Linked DNA regions of Homo sapiens: region 2 is linked to region 1. Evidence: fine-mapped expression QTL. A gene starts in region 1. The other region holds a variant in brackets. All regions are shown on one strand. Distances are from middle to middle. Region 1 holds the start of HNRNPF (heterogeneous nuclear ribonucleoprotein F). Region 2 overlaps FXYD4 (FXYD domain containing ion transport regulator 4).

Evidence for each region. PIP is the estimated chance that this variant, and not a neighbour inherited with it, causes the effect.
Region 2: its variant is the best candidate, but not a certain one, in a credible set for the expression of HNRNPF in whole blood (TOPMed, PIP 0.85).

What each region holds. Positions count from the first base shown.
Region 1 is chr10:43,408,043-43,410,943 of GRCh38, forward strand. HNRNPF (heterogeneous nuclear ribonucleoprotein F) reads right to left here and starts at 1,144. Exons shown (of 4, transcript NM_001098204.2): 1 at 1,089-1,144. RefSeq lists enhancers at 1-474, 1-253, 984-1,043 and silencers at 764-883, 1,334-1,563.
Region 2 is chr10:43,375,935-43,378,835 of GRCh38, forward strand. It overlaps FXYD4 (FXYD domain containing ion transport regulator 4), which reads left to right. Exons shown (of 9, transcript NM_173160.3): 8 at 98-135; 9 at 213-401. The coding sequence ends at 232. Among named protein-coding and RNA genes, the nearest start is that of FXYD4, 5.7 kb to the left of the region's middle. The variant C/T (reference allele first, on the strand shown) is at 1,345.

The DNA.
Region 1 (2,901 bases):
TCCCGAGTAGCTGGGACAACAGGCGCGCGCCACCACACGTGGCTAATTTTTTTTTCTTTACTTTTCAGTAGAGACAGTCTATGTTGCCCAGGCTTGTCGGGAACTCCTGGGCTCAAGAGATCCTCCCGGCTGGGCCTCCCACTGCGCCAGGCCTGTTCTCACTTTCAGAGCCCTCCGGCAGTCGCCAGCTCCCCGCCAGGGGGCCGGACTAACGCACCCGGCCGTCCGTGCCTTCCCCGCGCTTTCCTGACTCCAAAATCTCAGCCCGCGGTGCTCACCGCGTGGGACCACTGTCTGGGCGTGCGGCTCTCGACCTCCGACGCTGCGTCTCCCGATCCCAGTGGGTCCAGTTCTTGCCGGTCCCACGTACGGGCCCCTCGACCTCGAATCCCGTCACCCAAATCTCAGCGCCACGGCCCCTCATTATGTGCAGTCCTCGCTCGGTCCCAGGTTTGCGGCGCTTAAACTCAGATCGCTCTTCCCTGATCCCAAATCCCAGCCCCAGCCCAACGATCCCCACCCCAATAGGCCCAGTCCCCAGGTAGTCCGGGTACGGGGCCCTGGACTTCGGATAGTCTCCCTAATCTCAAATCCCACCCCCCGTCCCCACCCCCAGGGGGACCCGGTCCCCGCTAGGTCCCGGGTGTGCGGCCTTCGACCTCGGAGACTTCGGCCGCCCCTCACCTCGGCCTCCGAGTCTCTACACTCCCGCTCTCATATCAGGCACCCCGGTGGTCCCTTGGAGCACCTAGAGGAGGGTGGGACGCGGGGAACTTGGCAGTTGTAGCAGAGGCAGTTGAGGCTTGTTGACCATCACCATGGAAACCCCCGCCTGCGAGCACGGGGCGGAGCCTACGAGGGGCGGGGTCAGGCGCGCTGCCGGCCCCAATCCTCAGCGCCTGCCCGTCGAGCGCACGCGGCTTTGCCGGAAGCCCTCCTGCTCCCGGCGAGCCAGGCCCCGACTAGGCCCTACTGCCCGGCTCAGCCCTTTGCCCTGGACACCAGGAAACAGAAGCCCAAGGAGCCCGCGTCCCCACCCCCTGCTACCTGCCGGCGTGACAGCGATTCGGTGGCCCCCCGAACCCCACCTTGAGGAAGACGCGGCGCAGTCCTGCTTCCACGACGGAGCCGGAAGGACGCAAGGACCGCGGCAGGGCGGAGTTTCTGCGTCCGGCGTCCGGGGGCGGGGCCGCGACGGCGCATTGTGACGCGCCAGAGCTGAGCCGCCGGTTGGCCGGCTGGGCGCGGAGCAGAGCCGACACGGCTGGCGGGGGAGGCGGTGGAGGCGGACAAGCGAGGACGTTTCTGGAGAGGAGAAGGGAGGGGAGGGGAGGGGATAGGGGGAGGGGGAGGAGGAGGAGGGAGTGGAGCGGCGGGAAAGATCCCTCTGACTGCCCCTGAGGCCCTGGAGGAAGGACACTGGTGAGCCCCGCAGGACACTGAAATGTGCGCCGAAAGGACGCCTGATGGAAGACTAGGATGGGAAAAGGAAATGAGAGCCGATGGCAGGGCGTGGTGGCGCAAGCCTGTGGTCCCAGTAATTTGGGAGGCTAAGGCGGGAGAATCGCTTGAGCCCGGGAGGTCGAGGCTGCAGTGATCCGTGACTGCTCCATTGCGTCCAGCCTGGGCGACAGAGCGAGGCGCTGTCTCAAAAAATAAAATAAGGAAAGTAGTACACTGAAGGCCGGGCGCGGTGGCTCACGCCTGTAATCCCACCACTTTGGGAGGCCGAGGCGGACGGATCAGGCGGTCGGGAAATCGAGACCATCCTGGCCAACATAGTGAAACCCCTACTAAAATACAAAAAAATTAGCCAGGCGTGGTGGCGCGCGCTTGTAGTCCCAGCCACTCGGGTGGCTGAGGCAGGGGAATCGCTTGAACCCGGGAGGCGGAGCTTGCGTGAGCCGAGATCGCGCCACTGCACTCCAGCCTAGCGACAGAGCGAGACTACGTCTCAAAGAAAAAAAAAAAAAAAAGGTACACTGAGTACTCCGGAGACCGCCTAAAGGGGTCTCAGAGCAGGGCGTTAGGAGGGATTTGTCAGGTTGAAGTTGCTCAGGTGATAAATTCCGTGGTGTGAGAAGCCCCCAAACCTCAGAATGTAACTCAGACCCAGGTCGAGGGCAAGATTTTCAGTCACAGAGCACCTGAACACACAGATTTGGTGGCTAATGGCTAAGCCAGGGACAGATTTTCTTTCTTTTCTTTTTTTTTTTGATGTATTGTAGGGCTAATAATTGTAACCATTTTATTTTGGTGGATCTTCTTCATGAAGAGATGATGTCAAGGCACTCATCACAGGTTAAGCTGAACATTGTTACTATTGTTATTATTTCCAGACTGAGTATCGCCCTGTCATTCAGGCGGGAGTGCAGTGGTACAATCACGGCTCACTGCAGCCTCGACCTCCTGGGCTCAAGCGATCCTCCTGCCTCAACCTCCTGAGTAGCACCACCACTCTCGGCTAAATTTTGTATTTTTTGTAGAGGCGAGGTTTCGCTGTGTTGCCCGGGCTGGTCGGGAACTCCTGGACTCAAGCCATCCGCCCACCTACGCCTCCCAGAGTGTTGGGATTACTGGATTGAGCCACGCATCTGGCTGAACGTTATTTTTTAAATCACCAGAGAAAGTAAAGGAGTGCTCAAAATAGTGTCAGATGATGAGTGGGATGATTGTGATGAAGGAAGGAGTTTGTTAAAAGAAAAAGCTAGTTCCAAGAAAGAGAATGGAAAGAGTAAAGCAGGAGCTGTCAGAATAGGTAAAAATGTCCAAAGAGAAAACTGCATAATTTGAGGCAAAATTACAGAAAATAGTTCCTGCAAAAATCAGATAGGTATTCAGCATCATAGGAAAGGGGCGAAAATCAGATAGGTAGGTATTCTTAAGAAGTTGTGGCCGGCC
Region 2 (2,901 bases), 32 kb before region 1:
ACTTGCACTCCTGGGGCCGGGCAGCAAGAGTCTGGGATATAGGGGAGAAGGTCCTCCAGGCTAACCTGATACTACTCTGATGTGGTCCTTTCTCTAGTCCTGTACCTGAGAAGGCCATCCCACTCATCACTCCAGGTGAGACGGGCTTCTGTGGGCTGAGGGGGTGTCTGTGTAAGGACTGTGTCTGATGGCCTGCCCGCCACTCTCCGCAGGCTCTGCCACTACTTGCTGAGCACAGGACTGGCCTCCAGGGATGGCCTGAAGCCTAACACTGGCCCCCAGCACCTCCTCCCCTGGGAGGCCTTATCCTCAAGGAAGGACTTCTCTCCAAGGGCAGGCTGTTAGGCCCCTTTCTGATCAGGAGGCTTCTTTATGAATTAAACTCGCCCCACCACCCCCTCCTCGGTAGTCTTGTGATCCATCGTCTTTGGGTCTGGGGGTGGGTAATCCCTTGGATTGCTGACTTTCCCTGGATGCCCACTCCCAGCAAGCTTCCCAGTCCCTGAGTCCCTGCCGCCCAACTGTCTCCTATGGCTCCCACTCCAGCAAGCCCCACAGAGAGACCCATGCACTGTGAGATACCACAGTGTTATAACAGAAGACCTTTCCATTTCCACCACTTGCACGGGGGCCCTAGAAGTCCTGATGCCTCAGGTACCCATGACTTCCTTTAATCTAGAGCGACCCCCAGGGCTCACCCCCCCATTGAGACCTCAATTGAGACCCCCCATTGAGACCTCACCCAGTGAATGCTCTCTATGGTAGAAAATGTAGCAATTCCTTTGACCCATCCCAGTAAAATCCTCAGCTCACCCCATGGGCCCCCCTCCTCCCAGGAAATATCCTGTGAAATTCCATGAAGAAGTATGTCTCGAGAAGCCCTGCATAGTGCATGTGGGAGACAAACACCATGTGTGCAAATCCAAGTTCTTTGGCATGCCTGAACTCCCCTCCAGGAAGACTTCCCTGGCAATGTCCCTGTGGCACCCCAGGCAGGGGTGTGAAGTGCCACTTCTGCCTGGTGCCCATCCTGCAGTCCTGCCCCTTGACAGCCCAGGAGAAGGAACTGAGACCACTTCTAGCCTCTGCCTCCAGCAAAGGCCAGAGAACAATGGAGTCCCCGCCAGGTGGCAGCTCCCAATCTGAGGCCAGGGCTTGGGCTGGGCAGCTGTCTCCAATGATGCACCCTTCCTCCATGTCTCAGGGTGGGCCACATCCTTGAGAAGTATGATGTATCCTAGACTTAGGGTCACCTGCCTTGTGGGTGGGGTCAGAGACTTGTGCAGGGCCCCAGAGGTGTAAAAATGAGGTCCACATGTCTTCCAGGGCCTTTGAAACAGGACA[C/T]GTAGGGACTGAGAGCAAGGTTCCAAGGTGGGGCTGAGTGGGACTAAAGATACCTGGCTGAGTCCAGCCACTATCAGGGAATCTTGGGTGGGTCACAGAAGGCCTGGCAAGCCCCAGTGCTTTGGGGAAGCTGTCCTGTACCAGCAGCCCCAGGTGGTATGGCCAGCCCAGAGGCAGCGCTGAGTCTGCACAGGTGGACCTAGGGAGGGGCCTGTGCGCAAACCACCCTGGTGGAGGGAATTAGCAGCACGACTGGAATGCAGGCGATAGGATCACTGAGGAGGCAAGGCCCAGCCCTGCAGGACGCAGAGGCAGGGGTGGGAGCCACCCAGCAGGGCTGGTAGAAGGGGGCTCCTGAGCACGCCTCCTCATCCAGGGGGTGCAGTGCAGAGCTCTCTCCTCGTTGGCACGGGAAGACGCTGGTGTGAGAGACTGCTTTTGAGAACATGAAAAGTGCGGTAAGAAAGCCAAGTCTGGAGTGGCAGACCCAGGGGAAGCCACACAAAGGTGACCGGAAGCAGTGCATGCTTTCTGACTGAGGAACCCAGGGCCACGCAGTCACGACTATCAGGAGCTCTGCTGTTTGAAATCCTAGCAAACCCTGTCCTTGCATGGTGGCCCCATGACCCTGACAAGAGATGCAGCCTCAACTTCCAACCCCAGTGCCCCACTGGGGAGCAGAGGTTTCTGGACGTGACAGCCACCCACCTCCACCTTCACATGTATCCTGGGGCCACGTCGTGGTGGAGACCTGCCGCTCTTCTTTCAAGCTCTCATGCTGCTTCATTTAAACTTCTCCTGGACAGGTGTCACAGTTCCCCCAAGTCCTATAAGTGACCACTTATGTAGGAGGCCCCACCACACGAGTCCCTAGGTGTGACTGTCCAGTGACAGGCTTATCTCTCTGATGTGGAGGGTGACGGCTCTCGCTCATGGAACCTGGGAAAATCATGGTGGGAGGAGTCAGAAACTGATGGGAGGCCAGGTCTGGATGACAGTGGAGGATGGAGTCAGTGTTAGCCCCAGATGGACAAGGCCAGGCCCTGGAGTTGGGACCCTGGTTCCCAGGGGAAACGAGCTCTCCTCTCTCCCTTCTGGGAGTGAGGAATGGGCTGACTAGGGCATGACAGAGGCTCTCCAGGCTTCCCTTTGTGGGATTACTGGCTGTGCGTCAGAGACCCCTTCCTGGGGCCTGTTTCAGAGCTGGTGGGTGATTTCCCCTTGTCATCCTCTCCTAGTTGAGGGGCTGTGGGGAGAGGTAGGGGGGACCAGAGAAAGCAAAGTGTCATTTCCACTCAATTGGGGATTTACTGAGTGACAGACACCACTGTAAACACTTCACACATGTCAAATTTTCCTAGCAACCTATGTGATGCGGATGACATTAGGGTTAGGGTTAGGTTAGAGGAGAGGAGGCACCCAGAGGTTCTCATGGGCTAACGAATTCCACAGCCAGCCTCCAACCCTGGTGTCCTGCTCCTGAGCCCTGTTTCCAAAGGACTGGGGCCTGTTGCCTTCCCGATGTTTATCATTGTCAAAGACAGAGCCCAGGGACTG